Linked DNA regions of Homo sapiens: region 2 is linked to region 1. The links come from fine-mapping of genetic effects on gene expression. A gene starts in region 1. The other region holds a variant in brackets. All regions are shown on one strand. Distances are between the middles of the regions.

Region 1 (8,336 bases):
ACTTACTATTCAGATAAACTGCATGCATCAGAACCAAGACCTCTTTTTTTTTTTCATCTAGTTATCACAGTTCAGAAGACTGGTAGGCACAGTTTATGATACTTCAATGAGAAAGAGACAAGAAAAGCAGAAGTATTTTTGAGGGGCAGTGTTGAACAAGCATAACTTTTTTTCTTCTTTTCCTCTGTCAACTGAGTCGTGGTTTTTTGTTTTTGTTTTTTTTTTTTGAGATGGAGTCTCACTGTTGCCCAGCCTGGAGTGCAGTGGCACGATCTCGGCTCACCACAAATTCCGCCTCCTGGGTTCAAGCGATTCTCCTGTCTCAGCCTCCCGAGTAGCTGGGACTGTAGGCTCACGCCATCACGTCTGGCTAACTTTTGTATTTTCAGTAGAGACGGAGTTTCGTCATATTTGCCAGGCTGGTCTCGAACTCCTGACCTCAGGTGATCCACCCACCGCGCCCTCCAAAGTGCTGGGATTACATGCGTAAGCCACCGTGCCCGGCCTGAGTTGTTTTTTAAACAATTTTAAAAAAAATTATTTTAGAGGCTAGGTGCCGTGGCTCATGCTCGTAATCCCAGCACTTTGTGAGGCTGAGCAGGCGGATCATTTGAGGTCAGCAGTTCGAGACCAAGACTGGCTAACATGGTGAAACCCCGTCCCTACTTAAAAAACTACAAAAATTAGCCAGCTGTGATGGCACACACCTGTAATCTCTCAGCTACTTGGAGGCTGAGGCAGGAGAATCACTGAAATCCGGGAGGTGGAGGTTGCAACGAGCCAAGATTGCACCAGTGCACTCCAGCCTGGGCGACAGAGGCAGACTCCATCTCAAAAAAAAAAAAAAAATTAGAGACAGTGTCTCATCTGTCATGTAGGCTTGAGTGCAGTGGCATGATCACAGCTCACTGTATCCTCAAACTCCCGAGCTCAAATGATCCTCCTGCCTCAGCCTCCCCAGTAGATGGGATTACAGGCGCATGCCACCAGGACTGGTCGAGCGTAACATTTGATTTAGACCTAAGGCACTAAGGAAGAGGAGCTAAAGAAGTAGTCAAGGCACATTTTGAAGGTTTCATTTTTCAATAAAATTTCCAGGTTTTTATTTTTTTTCTTTGGAGACAGTCTCCCTCTGTGGCTCAGGCTGGAGTGCAGTGGCGTGATCTTGGCTCACTGCAACATCTGCCTCCCAGGTTCAAGCGATTCTCATGCTTCAGCCTCCTGAGAGGCTGGGATTACAGGTGTGTGCCACCACACCTGGCTAATTTTTGTATTTTTAGTAGAGACGGGGTTTCACCATGTTGGCCAGGCTGGTCTCGAACTCCTGACCTCAGGTGATCTGCCCTCCCCCACCTCCCAAAGTGCTGGAATTACAGTCATGAACCACGACGCCTAGCCCCTCCCCCGCTTTTTACTGATCAACTTTTGTTAAGCATTCTGTGGTCCACGGAAGAAAAAACCAAACACCAAAGAACAATAAACTTGTACAACCAGCCTTCCAGCCATCAATATTCTGGATTCCAGAATGATTGAGGCTGGACTTTGTTAATCATCGAAGGCTGGTATCTGAGAAACTCTTCCTCTCCCTTACCTTTATAGGCCACTTTTCTTTCAGTAATGCTGAAACACTGACTTAATAACAGTTGTCCCCTGGTCTAGCATTTAATAGGTAATCCACAATTTTTGCTGAATGTCAATAGCTAAACGTTAGTGACCTCTTAAGACTGTCTGGCAGAGTAAATCTTCGGCTTTATATCACATTCTCCGACCCAAAGGGCCAAAAATAGGCAAAGCTCTCTCCACTAAATCGGTTTCCTAAATTGGGGATCTCAAACTAGTAAAATTTCAGAAAACTTTCGGAACTTTTGTCAAGAGCATACTAAAAAAGTTTATCTTTTGTCGTTTACTATCATTAAAGCCATAAAACAGCATTTTACAAGGAAATTTTAAAAATTAAGAATAAGGCATAACTCCCTTCCAGAGAGGTAGACCCAAAAATATTCTGAAGTTTTTGTAATGCATTAAAATGACGGCATAACATTTTATTAACACTCTGTTACGTTTCTTTTTTCTTTTTTTTTGAGACAGTTTTGCTCTTGTTGCCCAGGCTGGAGTGCAACGGTGCGATCTCGGCTCACCGCAACCTCCGCCTCCCGGGTTCAAGCGATTCTCCTGCCTCAGCCTCCCAAGTAGCTTGGATTACAGGCATTCGCCACCACACCCGGCTACTTTTGTATTTTTTAGTAGAGACGGGGTTTCTCCATGTTGGTCAGGCTGGTTTCGAACTCCCGATCTCAGGTGATCCGCCCTCCTGGGCCTCCCAAAGTGCTGGGATTACAGGCATGAGCCACCGCGCCCGGCCACATCGTTATGTCTCATTGTAAATCCGTTTCTGTAGAAAATCCTTCCACATGGGTTAAAGGACACAACTCATTGTTACTTTATGGGATTAAGAAAAATCTGAGTAAGGCCGGGCACGGTGGCTCACGCCTGTAATCCCAGAACTTTGAGAGGCCGAGGCGGAGGATCACTTGAGCCCAGGAGTTCAAGACCAGCCTGAGCAACATAGAGTCCTCATCTCTTCAAGCCGAGCGTGGTAGCGCGCGCCTGTGGTCCCAGCTGCCCCATAGGCTGAGGTTGGAGAATCGCTTGAATCCCGGGGTTGGAGGCTGCAGTGAGTCGAGATCGAACCACTGCACTACAGCCTGGGCCACAGACCCCCGTCTCAATCTCGGAAAAAAAAAAGAGACTCCATCTAAAAAAAAAAAAAAAAAAAAAAAGCTGAGGAAGTCAAAGCCTTCACTCTTCATTTCTCCTTCCAAGAGGACAGGGCCGGCGTCGGTCAAGGTCAATTGGCAGGTGAGTTGACAGCGCCGCCACTAATCGATGAAAACGCCCCCCGCGAGCACCCAGCTGCTCATGGCCTCCGGAAGCGGACGTAGGGCGGGTGGGGTACAGCTCCTAAGGAGAAACGGAACCGCAGGCACCGTCCCTCTCCCGCTGCAGCCTGAGGAACGCGTTCCGAGGAACCCCTAGCCACAAGTCAGGACCGCGTACAAGATGGCGGCGCGTCACGTGGGCAGCGCGGTGACGCAGGACGGCGGCCCGCGCGGAGGCAGCGCCATAGCCTACCCCAAACGCACACTAGTGCTCAGTTTTGCCCCCCTCCCCTCCCCCGCCCCCGCCCCCGCCCCCAGGCTTGTGTAGATCATGCCGCCAGTAGCGGCCCTGACTGCCGAGGAAACGGTAGCTTAGGACAGTTGGCTGTTAAGTGACACTGATTCTCCCCGCCCCGCCTGACCCCCGAGAAGGAGGCTTGTCCCCCGCTGCGTGAGGGGGTGGGGAAGTGGGTAGTGAATTCGGATCTACCTGGGAGGGGGGAGTGGAAGTTCCCGCCCCGGAGAGCGGCGAGGCGGCAGCCACAGGTAAGTGGGGGGCGGGGAGGGACGTGCCCCGTGGCCCGGGCGGGGAAGGACGCGGGAACGTGGCGCCGGCGGGGACGCAGCGCGGGTCGCGCGCCTGGTGGGGGTCGCGCGCGGTGGTGGCGGTGGGGGAGGGGCGCAGCGGCAGGGGGAGGGGCCGCCCGCGCTTCCGGCCTCCGCGCCTCGGTGCAGAGCTGCGCTGCGCCCTTCCAGTCGTGCGTCTCCTCCTTTCCCTCGCCCCCAAATAAAAGTAAAGCCCGAAACCGCCCGCCGCGGGGTGGCTTTCGCCTCAGAAGCCGCCCTTTGCAGTCGCAGGCGCTAGCTCTCCGTGGGAGGTCTCGAGGTTGGGCCCGGAGCCGGGCGGAGGGCGGCGCGGATATGGCCTCGGCGCGGTGTCCGCCGAGCGGAGCCCGGGTCTGGTTAACCCCGCGACAGGGTCCTCGAAGCGCGTCGGCGCTGGCGACCCTGAGGGAAGAGGCGCGCCCCTTACCCTCCTGGAGCTTGCAGTCTAGCGGGCAACCGACGCACGGGCATTGCGCACGCCCCAGACAGTCCTGGAGAGATGCGCCTGGCAGCGGAGACAGAGTGGGGACAGTAGGCGGCTTTACCCCTGGCTAGGAATGACACAAGGGCGTCTGTACCCTTTGGGATGGGCGACCCAGCCGAGGGTGACTTTCTCTTTGATCTTGTATGTCAAAAAACGAAGCCTGGCATTTCTCACTTTGATCGACGCCGTGCAGCTGGCGGCTGAATCGCTTTGAAATGATTGCAATGTGAAATAATGTCTGGTTGTGGCGCTAGTGTTTTGAAGAGATTGGGCAACTGGTAGTCTTTGAGAACCTTTAGGGTTCAGAAGCTCGGCGTGGATCTGGCAGGCATCTTTGTCAAACTGGCCTCACCTGTGATGAGTTCGTAGGCATTTATGTCTCAGAATGCATTTTAACCTGAGGTTTTTGTTAACAGAAATGCGTTCTTCTAAAATGCTCTTTTTTCTTGGAGTTTATCATATGCAGTTATCTCCGTGTCTTAATTAGAATCAATACTGTTGCCCTAAAGTCGAATGTATTAGCTCTTTAATACTTGCCGTTATCTTTTAGGGTTAGGTTTGGTCTGTGAGCTATCTGTCCATTCCTACCCGATCACCAGCAGGTGGCAGTCCCTTCTGACTTTAAATATAGGGTGTGCTATCTTTGCCAGTTTTTGTTTTGTTTTGTTTGTTTGTTTGTTTGTTTTTAAATAGAGATGGTGTCAGAGGCGTGTGAACTAGAACAACTCCATCTTAAACAGGAGCTGGGTAAAATGAGGCTGAAACCTACTGGGCTGCATTCCCAGACAGTTAAGGCATTCTAAGTCACAGGATGAGACAAGTCAGCACAAAATACAGGTCATGAAGACCTTGCTGATAAAACAGGTTGCAGTAAAGAAGCCGGCCAAAACTGAAATGGCCACAAGAGTGACCCCTGGTCATCCTCACTGCTACACTCCCATCAGCGCCATTTACAAATCCCATGGCAATGTCAGGAAGTTACCCTATATGGTCTAAAAAGGGGAGGCGTGATTAATCCACCCCTTGTTTAGCCTATCATTGAGAAATAACAGTAAAAAGGGGTAACCAGCAGCCCTTGGGGCTGCTCTGTCTATGGAGTAGCCGTTCTTTTTATTCCTTTACTTTCTTCATAATGTTACTTTTACATCGCACTGTGGACTTGCCCTGAATTATTTCTTGCGCGAGATCCAAGAACCCTCAGTTGGGGCCTGGATCAGGACGCCTGTCCTGTAACATATTTCTGGCGACCACAAAGGGACTATAGTGCAGAAACCCTGACCCAACGGCTACCTTTGGGTAAGTGTTGGGGTCCTGTAACGTATTTGTGGTGGCCACAGAAGCGACTATACTGCGGAAACCCAGTATTTATGTTTAGGAGTCTCTCCTAAGACAGTGGGTTCGAGGCCCCTCTTAATAAAAGGCAAGGACGCTTAAGCTTGACTGACCTTGGGTTGGAGGCCCTTCTAAGATATAGGGAGTTAGAGTCCCTCTCAGGTAACTCCCTCTCAGCTAAGAACAGGTTTGGCACTATGGGATATTAACTGCTGTTCTCTTTGGATTAATCTGCCTTGCGCTCTTTGCTGATGGCTGTGGGTGACAGAGTTAGGCATGAACAGGATCGTGGGACATGGGGAGCTTTTTCCTCTCTAAAAGGGGAGTCTTTTTTTTTTTTAATTTAAGTTTTAGGGTACATGTGCACATTTTGCAGGTTAGTTACATATGTATACATGTGCCATGCTGGTGCACTTCACCCACTAACTCGTCATCTAGCATTAGGTATATCTCCCAATGCTATCCCTCCCCCCTCCCCCCATAAAAGGGGAATCTTGAGAGCTGATGGGACTGCTGGAAAAGGTCCCTTTGCTGCGTACAAGCGGCTGCCTGAGGTTTTCATTGTCGGCTGCAATGAGTGGGTCTTTTCTCTGGCCTCCCTAAGCTCTTCAGCTTCCCCACCCTGCCACAGGCAATACTTTTCTTATCTACTTTGCGTTTCTTATTTTTTCTATTACTCAGGGCAACCATCTTACCTAGAGGCCACATGTTGAAACTCCAAGTCGGAGGTTGAATTAAAGATGACAGGCCCATCTGGGGGCAAATTTAAGCCTTGCTAGTTTGATATTGGGTGCTAAGCGGAGTGGCTAATGTCTTTGTTTTATCACACGTATTTTGCTCTGGCCAGAATGGAAAAAACATAATTTTCCTTTATGATACGGCTTGGCCCCCAGGGCAATGATGCTGCAAGCTTGAACACTAGGACCACTAAGGGAAAGGGAACCCAGAAGCCTGGGATGCTGGCAAAAGGGTAAGAATGTATTACCAGTCAGATTTCTGGCTTCTCTCTCACTGTACAAATGGTTAAGTGAATGGTTAAAAAAAAAAAAATCAGCCTGGCACGGTGGCTCAGGCCTGTAATCCCAGCACTTTGGGAGGCTGAGGCTGGTGGATCCCCTGAGGTCAGGAGTTTGAGACCAGCCGTGGCCAACATGGTGAAACCCTATCTCTACTAAAAATACAAAAAATTAGCTGGGTGTGGTGGCGTGCGCCTGTAGTCCCAGCTACTTGGGAGGCTGAGGCAGGATAATCACTTGAACCCGGGAGGCGGAGGTTGCAGTGAGCCGAGATCGTGCCACTGCACTCCAGCCTGGCAACAGAGCGAGACTCCATGTCCATCTCAAAAAAAGAAAAAAAAGAACACCTGTAAGCTCGCTTTTCAAGATGACCCAGCAAGCTGGTCAGTAAGATACTTGGCTGCAGGTCCCTGTAACAAATAAAAGACTGGATGAAGTCTCCACCTTGTTTTACGTCCTTGGGAGCTTGACCTTTTAACCATGTGGTGGTACTTTCTTTTGGTCCCCACCTTCAGAGAACAGGAATTTCAGGATTCATGTCATAGTTAGCTCTAAAAATAATATTAAATAGTTAAAAGCCCTTATAAGCTCAAAATTAACTACTCTAGACTCCTTCTGGGAAGGTCAACAGAGACTGCCCTGTGCTGTAGCTCAGTAGCTAAGCTTTTGCACTTTCTTTTTTTTTTTTTTTGAGATGGAGTCTTGCTCTGTCGCCCAGGCTGGAGTGCAGTGGTGCGATCTCAGCTCACTGCAACCTCCGCCTCCCGAGTTCAAGTGATTTGCCTGCGTCATCTTCCCAAGTAGCTGGGATTACAGGTGTGTGCCACTACGCCCAGCTAATTTTTGTATTTTTAGTAGAGATGGGGTTTCATCATATTGGGCAGGCTGGTCTCGAACTCCTGACCTCAGGTGATCCACCTGCCTCAGCCTCCTAAACTGATGGGATTACAGGCATGAGCCACCGCACCCAGCCAGCTTTTGCACTTCCGTGGCAACAGTCCAGGTTCAATTACCCACCTAGGAAGTAAGTCGTTTCTGGTTTAATATCTGCATGACTTTGTCTATTCTCTTCTCCTCTGTGAACTGTCTTATATTTTCCTTTTTCTAAGCACCTGGGAGGTTACCTTTGATAAAATTCAAAAGCCAGAAATACCAGCCGTTTGGCATAAAAACTTCTAAAAGGACTTTATTAAAGAGTGCTATGGTTAAAATAAGTTTAATTAAAAGTGGATATTCAAGCTCTAACAGCCTGGACTCCTTGGGAAAAACAAGAGGCACCAGAGACCCCTTTCGTGGCCCTGTTCTTCCAAGGGCTCCACCCTGAAGCCGGTAATCCAATTAAGAAACTTAAAAACTGGCAAATGAAAAATCTTACAACCACTGTTATCATCATCATCTGTCTTTCTGTGTAGCTATATAGGTGTCGTGTGTAATATTTATATAAAAGAGCTCTGATTAATCAGCTTAAACAAAAATAAACATTTAAATCAAATATTTTGAAAGCAAAATAACTAATGCCTTTTAGTTCATGTAACTTTAGTAATCTTTAGGAAATAAACACATCTTTAAAATTGATAAAAATGTTAATCTTAATTATGCAGGTCAGATATTAAGTTTGTTAAATGATTTGAGGTCATAAACTGTTTCTTTGACTTTTAAAAATTGTTCAATTTACCCTACCTTAAAGCCATTAGATTCTAGATAAGGCCTGGGGACATGTGGAGTTAGCCACGCCCCTAAGCTGTGCTGGAGAGTCAGCTCTTATCTGCACTTCTGCCTGGTGTGTCCTAGGCTAGGCTCCACACCTAGTACATAATTAAAATTGCTTACTAACCAGGGTTTTCACCAAAAGTAAAAGTCGCTAAAAGTTAAAATTGGAACATGTAACTGAGACTATTGAAGAGACAGTTTTACATGTAAGGTGTGTAGTAAGGAAAATAGAATGTACTTTTGGTAAAAGATTATAAGAAGGCATGGAAATGTGGGGTTTTTTGGCTAAAGAGTTAAATAATTATTCTA
Region 2 (8,336 bases), 48 kb after region 1:
TTCAAGCGATCCTCCTGCCTCAGCCTCCCAAGTAGCTGGGATTACAGGCGCCTGCCACCATGCCCAGCTAATTTTTGTATTTTTAGTAGAGACAGGGTTTCACCATATTGGCCAGCCTGGTCTCAAACTCCTGACCTTGTGATCCGCTGGTCTCGGCCTCCCAAAATGCTGGGATTACAGGTGTGAGCCACCATGACTGGCCCGATTATTATAACTTTTACCTGAGATTGAAAAAGTTTTAGGAATTTCTTTTTGTGGCCGGGCATGGTGGCACATGCCTGTAATCCCAGCACTTTGGGAAGAGGAGATGAGTGGATCACTTGAAGCCAGGAGATCAAGACCAGCCTGGCCAACATGGTGAAACCCCGTGTCTACTGAAAATACAAAAATTAGCTGGGTGTGGTGGCTCACACTTCTGGTCTCAGCTACTTGGGAGGCTGGGGCACAAGACTCTCTTAAGCCAGGGAAGCAGAGGTTGCAGTGAGCCATGATGGCGCCACTGTACTCCAGCCTGGGTGACAAAGCAAGATCTTGTCTCAAAAAAAAAAAAAAAAAAAAAATTATTTTTGTGAAGTCATTCACATTACCAATGTTTAATAGAGTTCTGGTTTTTTTTACAGAAAAATTTTGAAAGACTTATCTTCTGAAGATACACGGGGCAGAAAAGGAGACGGAGAAAATTCTGGAGTTTCTGCTGCTGTCACTTCTATGTCTGTTCCAACTCCCATCTATCAGACTAGCAGCGGACAGTACAGTATGTATAGGAATCAGTTTCCACATTATAAACACACAAAACCTGACTTTTCTGTAGAAAGAAATGGTGTTAGGAAAACTGTAATACTTTGATAGTGATGATTATTAAAGGATGTTTTCAGCCAGGAATAATGCGAAGTACTGTTTCAGCATTATTTACTCCTTATAACAACTTTGTGACATAGGCAATTATCAATGTATGAGGGAACTGAGACCTACAACATTAGATACTGTTTTGTTTTGTTTTGTTTTGTTTTGTTTTGAGACAGAGTCTCGCTCTTGTTGCCCAGGCCGGAGTGCAGTGGCACAATCTTGGCTCACTGCAACCTCTGCCTTCCCGATTCAAGTGATTCTCCTGCCTCAGCCTCCGGAGTAGCTGGGATTACAGGCGTGTGCCACCACGCCCGGCTAATTTTTGTATTTTTAGTAGAGAGGAGGTTTCACCATATTGGCCAGGCTGGTCTCGAACTTTGACCTCAGGTGATCCGTCCACCTTGGCCTCCCAAAGTGCTGGGATTATAGACATGAGCCACTGCGCCTGGCCTTATTTTGTTCATTCTTATATCTATGTAGTTCCGTACATAATTGCTGTATATTATATTAGTATAATTCCTTTCAGAACATTCCTGGCTTTTTTTTTTTTTTTTGAGGTGGAGTTTCGCTCTGTTGCCCAGATTAGAGTGCAGTGCCATGATCTCGGCTCACTGCAACTTCCACCTCCCGGGTTCAAGTGATTCTCCTGCCTCAGCCTCCCAAGTAGCTGGGATTACAGGCGTGTACCACTTCGCTTGGCTAATTTTTGCATTTTTAGTAGAGACGGGGTTTCACCATGTTGGCCAGGCTGGTCTCAAACTCCTCCTGACCTGAAGTGATTCACCCACCTTGGCCTCCCAAAGTGCTGGGATTACAGGCGTGAGCCACCACGCCTGGCCCCTGCCTATTCGTTAAAAATATTTATTGTTTGATTTATATACAGTAAAATTCACTCTTTGGGGAGTTTAAGTCTATGAGTTTTGACAAATGTGTAGAATAGTATAACACCGCCAATCAAGATTGAGTTCTGTCACCCTAACGAATTTACTTGTGCTGCCCATTTGTTATCTCCCCCTCCACTCCTAACATTAATCTGTTTCATTCAGTCTTGCCACAAAATATATGTCCCATCTGACCACCTCTTGCCGTCTCCAACCACCACCGCCTTGGTTTAGGCTCTCATCTTAATTACTGAAGTAGGCATCCAGTTGGTCATCTTGCTTCCATTCTTGCTCTAATAATCAGTTTTCCATACTGTGGCCAAAGTGATTTATTTAAGATGTCAACTAGATCACATCGCTCCTGCCCAAAATCCTCTAGTGACATTTTATCACACTTAGAATAAAATCCGGATCTTACAAGGCATTACATTTAGGATCTGCCTACCACTCTGACCTCATCTCCTGCCACTTGGTGGCATTCTGACCACCCCAGACTTCCTTACTGTACCTCAGACACACGAGCTTGTTTCTGCCTCAGGATCTCTGGAGTTGTCATTGCTCATGCCTGGCATGTTCTTCCCCCAGATCCTTATGTGGCTACTCTGCTTAAGTGTCACCTCCACAAAGAGACCACTCTCTTCAAATATGTGGCTCCTCCCTTTAGTTTCCCTTAACCTCCTATATTTTTCTTTATAGCATTTACATATAACTAAGTCAGTACATATTAGTTTAATTATAGATTGTATGTATGTAATTATAGATTAGCTTATTCATGATCTGTTTTCCCCACTAGAATATAAGATCCTTAAGGGAAAGAACCTTTTGTTTCATTCACAACTACATCCTTGACATATAGGACCTGGCATATAGTAGGCTTTCAGTTGTTTGTTATGAATTAATTAAATAATATATATATAGAATACCTCTTGAGAAACTGGGGGCCAGGCACTGTAGTTCATGTCCGTAATCTCAGTACGTTGAGAGGCTGAGGCTGGAGGATTGCTTGAAGCCACATTCAGGACCAGCCTTGGCAACATAGCAAGACTGTGTCTTCACAGAAAAATGAAGAAAAAAAAAAAAAAAAAAAGCCGGGCATCATGGCATGTGACTAGTCCCATCTACTCGGGAGGCTGAAATGGGATCTCTTGAGTCTGGGAGTTCGAAGTTACCGTGAACCGTGATCGTACCACCGCACTCCAGCCTGGGCAATAGAGCAAGACCAGTCTCAGAAAAAGAAGAAAGAAAGAAAGAAACTGGGAGCAGTGGTTGCAAGGAAAGAAGCTTGGGAGCAGAGATCAGAGGTAGTGGGGAGGTTCACATGTTATCACTGAAATAAGTGTAGTACAAACTAGTATTTAGGGCAACATAGGCCAATAGAACTTCGTATGATAATGGGAATGTTTATATCTGCATTGTCCCAGAATAGTAGCCACTAAACCATGTGTGACTGTTGAGTGCTTGAAATATGGCTGGTGGGACTGAGAAACTGAAATTTTAATTTTGTTTAATTTTAGTTAATTTAAATAGCCACATGGAGCTAATACCCTATCAGACAGCTCAGTTTTAGAATAAATACAGCACATTAACAGGTAAATACACATGTTAAGAACAGGAAGATATGTTGCAAAAATGAAAATATGTATTCACACATATTTAATATCAAAACATTTGCATCTACAGGTATGTATTTTGATATATTAGGTTGGTGTAAAAGAAATTGCAGTTTTCACCACTGAACATAATGGCAAAAGTATATAAGTCTGTATAAGCACAGGAAAATAATGGGAAGGATGTGCACCAAAAACAATAATTATCTCAGGATGGCGGTAAAAGGGGGAAAATGAAATAGAGATAGATAATGGGACCTTTAATTTTATTTATGTTGATACTTATATAAATAAATGTGTATGTGTATATATGTATATAATAATGTGTTGCAGGGAAGAAGATTGAAACTAATTGCTAATATAACTTCACAGCAAATCTCAGCCTGGCGTGTTGGATCACGCCTGTAATCCCTGCACTTTGGGAGGCCAAAGTGGGAGGATCACTTGATTTCAAGACCAGACTGGGCAATATAGGGAGACCCTATCTCTATAAAAAATTTAAAAATTAGCTGAGCATGTCCGTGTGCATCTATAGTTCCAGCTACTTGGGAGGCTGAGGTAGGAGGATTGCTTGAGCCCAGGAGGTAGAGTGCAGTGGTGAACCAGGACCACACCACTGCACTCCAGCCTGGGTGACAAGTGAGACCCTGTCTCAAAAAAAATAGCCAACATATCCCTGTATCTAACATTTAAAAAAATATTTTGAAACTCATAAATTAAAGTTGGGGCAGTTGGGGAGGGATAATTATGAATGCGTGAAAAAAAATATTTTTCCATCACACACATATACATATACATGTATTTTGGCTTCCTGGTAGCCAAAGCATAAAAGGAAAAAAAAATGTTTCATAACTGTAATCTGAAAAGAGGGTACAGAGATGAGGCATTCGATTCTGAAGAGTATATGGGAATTGAATAATGCTAAAATGTTTTCTATTTGATCATGCCTTATGGGCATTTAAGGGCTGAGGAGAAAGCATGAACACAGGTATAATTCAGTGAAAAAATGTTTGTGGGGAGCTAAGTAGTATTTTCTACACAGTGGCTTTCTGCTATCTTTATTAGTGATTTTCACTAGGAAGTAAATGAATAGATTACATTTCTTAACTATCACTTAAGTAAATATCTTAATAACATGTAATACATTTAACAGTGGTACCACTAGAAAATGAAGCTAAGAAACCATATAAAGATGACTTATTTTCTCATTATATAACCTTTTATTCTATTGAATTTTTTCCATAAGCATGTTATCTATTCAGAAATATTTTAAAGTAATAATATTTTTAATGCTTTTGACTCAAAATTACAAACTATGTTTATGTTTCCTTTTTATTTTTTCTTAAAAATTAACTATCATGGGGCCAAGTGCAGTGGCTCATGCCTGTAATCCCAGCACTTTGGGAGGCTGAGGCGGGTGAATCACCTGGGGTCAGGAATTTGAGACCAGCCTGGCCAACATGGAGAAGCTCCGTCTCTACTAAAAATATAAAAATCAGCTGGGCATGGTGGCGCACACCTGTAATCCCAGCTCCTTGGGAGGCTGAGGCACAAGAATGGCTTGAACCCAGGAGGCAGAGGTTGCAGCCAGCCGAGATCGTGCCACTGCACTCCAGCCTGGGCGGTAGAGCGAGACTCCATCTCAAAAAAGAAAAAAAAAAAAGAAATGCTGTTTTATTCCTTTTACATGTAGTTCACCTAAAGTAAAGTAGTCTGCAGTTACCAAGTAGAAGTGCATTCATACCTGTTTT[A/G]GTAAATAGTGTTTGTGGGCTTTTTGCCACTCCTTTGAATTAGTGTATTATATAACCTTACAATAGCTATTTTCTCTTTTTGATTAAAGTTGCCATTGCCCCAAATGGAGCCTTACAGTTGGCAAGTCCAGGCACAGATGGAGTACAGGGACTTCAGACATTAACCATGACAAATTCAGGCAGTACTCAGCAAGGTACAACTATTCTTCAGTATGCACAGACCTCTGATGGACAGCAGATACTTGTGCCCAGCAATCAGGTGGTCGTACAAAGTAAGTATGCTTTCTGTCTACAGAAAGTCTCCTAACACTGTCAGAGACACTTACTAACTAACTCATTCACTCTTGTTTACCATCTAGCTGCATCAGGAGATATGCAAACATATCAGATCCGAACTACACCTTCAGCTACTTCTCTGCCACAAACTGTGGTGATGACATCTCCTGTGACTCTCACCTCTCAGACAACTAAGACAGATGACCCCCAATTGAAAAGAGAAATAAGGTTAATGAAAAACAGGTAGGTAGTAAAATCGTAGTACCAGAATGGGTAATGTTTTTACAAATCTCACAACATAACCAGATGTTAACTGGAACTGTATACAGTCATGGGCTGCATGACAATGTTTAAGTAAACAATGGACCACATAAATGAATGACGGTGGTCCCATAAAATTATAATGGAGCTAAAAAGTCCTGTGCTAATGTCATAGTGCAACACATTACTCACGTTTGTGGCAATGCTGGTATAAACAAACCTATTGTGCTGCCAATCATATAAAAGTGTAGCACATGCAATTATGTATAGAACATAATACTTGATACTATAATAAGTTAATATGTTACTGGTTTATGAATTTACTATACTTTTAATCATTATTTTAAAGTGTATACCTTCTACTTTTTTTTTTTTTTTTTTAAAGTTAACTGTAGGCCAGGCATGGTGGCTCACGCCTGTAATCCCAGCTGAGGCGGGCAGATCACGAGGTCAGGAGATCGAGACCATCCTGGCTAACGTGGTGAAACTCCATCTCTACTGAAAATACAAAAAAATTAGCTGGGCGTGGTGGCGGGCGCCTGTAGTCCCAGCTACCCGGGAGGCTGAGGCAGGAGAATGGCATGAATCTGGGAGCCGAAGCTTGCAGTAAGCTGAGATTGCGCCACTGCACTCCAGCCTGGGCAACAGAGTGAGACTCTGTCTCAAAAAAAAAAATTTTTTTAACTGTAAAACAGCCTCAAGGCAGCCCCTACAGGAGGTATTCCAGAAGAAGGCATTGTTATCATAGGAGATAACAGCTCCCTGTGTGTTATTGCCCCTAAAGACCTTCCAGTGGGATAAGGTATGGAGGTGGAAGACAATGATATTGATGATCCTGACCCTAGGCTAGTTAGCCTAGGCTAATGTTGGTGTTGGTGTCTTAATTTTTAACAAAAAAGTTCAAAAAGTAGAAAAGTTATATTTGGTTTTTGTGATTTTTTTTTTTAAGACAAGGTCTCACTGTGTCACCCACACTGGAGTGCAGTGGCACAATCTTGGCTTACTGCAACCTCTGCCTCCAGGGCTCAAGTGATCCTCCCAGCTCGGCCTCCCAAGTAGCTGAGACTACAGATGTATACCACCACACCCAGCTAATTTTTTTTTTTTTTCTTGTAGAGGTGGGGTTTTGCCATGTTGCTTAGGCTGGTCTCAGACCTGGGCTCAAGTGATCCATCCACCTGCCTCAGCCTCCCAAAGTGCTGGGATTACAGGCATGAACCACTGCACCCAGCCCCCAAAAATTTAAAATTAGCTAGTACAACCACTATGAAAACCAGTATGGAGACTTCTCAAAAAACGAAAAATAGAAATCTACCCAAAGGAAAAGAAATCAATATATCAGAGGGATACCTGTACTCATAAGTTTACTTGCAGCACTATTCACGCACAATAGCTAATAGAATCAACTATGTGTCCATCAGTGGATAAATGGATAAGAAAGAATTAAATCATGTCATTTGCAGCAACATGGATGGAATTGAAGGTCAGTATCTTAAGTGAAATAAGCCAGGCACAAAAAGAAAAAATATCACATTCTCACTTATATGTGGGAGCTAAAATATTTGAACACATGGAAGTAGAGAGTGGAAAAATAGGGCTGGGCGTGGTGGCTTATGCCTGTAATCCCAGCACTTTGGGAGGCCGAGGCGGGAGGATCACTTGAGCCTAGGAGTTCAATGCAAGCCTGGGCAACATACCCATTGCTACAAAAGATAAAAAATTAGCCAGGCATGGTGGCGTGTGCCTAAAATCCCAGCTACTCGGGAGGCTGAGGTGGGAGGATTGCTTGAGCCCAGGGGGTTGAGGCAGCATGATCGCACCACTGCACTTCAGCCTGGGCAACAGAGCAAGACCCTATCTCAAGAAAAAAGAGAGAATGGAAAAATAGGTAACAGAGACTGGGAACGGTGAGGGGCAAGGAGGAGGATGAAGAGAGTTAAAGGGTACAAACCCATACACAGTAAGATAAAAGGAATAAATTCAGTGTTTCATAGCAGAGTAGGATGACCACCCTTAACAAAAACCTATTAATACTCAGGTGATGGACACCCTGAATCCCCTGACTTGATCGCTACACATTATATACATGTAACAGATTTTCTCATGTGCTCCATAAATATGCACAGAAACATTTTAATGGAAAAAACCATACAGGCCAGGCGTGGTGGCTCACACGTGTAATCCCAGCATTTTCGGAGGCCAAGGCAGGAGGATCACTTGAGCCCAGGAGTTTGAGACCAGCCTGGGCAATATAGGGAGACCCCATCTCTAAAAAAAATTTAAAACATTAGCTAGATGTGGTAGAGGCAGGAGAATCACTTGAACCTGGAGGCAGAGGTTGCAGTGAGCCATGATCACGCCATTGTACTTCAGCCTGGGCAACAGAGCAAGACTCTTGTCTCAAAAATAAAACAAACAAAAAAAAACACACAAGTAGTTAATAATCATATAAAAGACTACTCAGCCTTATTAGTAATCAAAGAAATACACATTAATGCTACACATTTAGATACCCTTTATACCCACCCAATTGGCAAAAATTTTAAAGTCTAACCAAGAGTTGGCAAGGATTTGGAACAATGGTCAGGAATTCATAGATACTACTATAGGAGTGTAAATTGATGCAGCCATTTTGGAAATTAGGCCTTATCTTGTACAGTTGACGTGGGTATACTCTGTGACCCAGCTGTTTTAGTCTGTGTGACTGAGAGGAA

What was found.
Region 2: its variant is fine-mapped to the expression of ATF1 in whole blood (INTERVAL, PIP above 0.99).

Annotation. Positions count from the first base shown.
Region 1 is chr12:50,760,883-50,769,218 of GRCh38, forward strand. ATF1 (activating transcription factor 1) reads left to right here and starts at 3,219. Exons shown (of 7, transcript NM_005171.5): 1 at 3,219-3,425. RefSeq lists enhancers at 814-1,682, 3,983-4,082, 8,025-8,336 and silencers at 3,173-3,252, 3,473-3,562.
Region 2 is chr12:50,808,836-50,817,171 of GRCh38, forward strand. It overlaps ATF1 (activating transcription factor 1), which reads left to right. Exons shown (of 7, transcript NM_005171.5): 4 at 621-754; 5 at 5,175-5,357; 6 at 5,445-5,604. Among named protein-coding and RNA genes, the nearest start is that of TMPRSS12, 30 kb to the right of the region's middle. The variant A/G (reference allele first, on the strand shown) is at 5,086.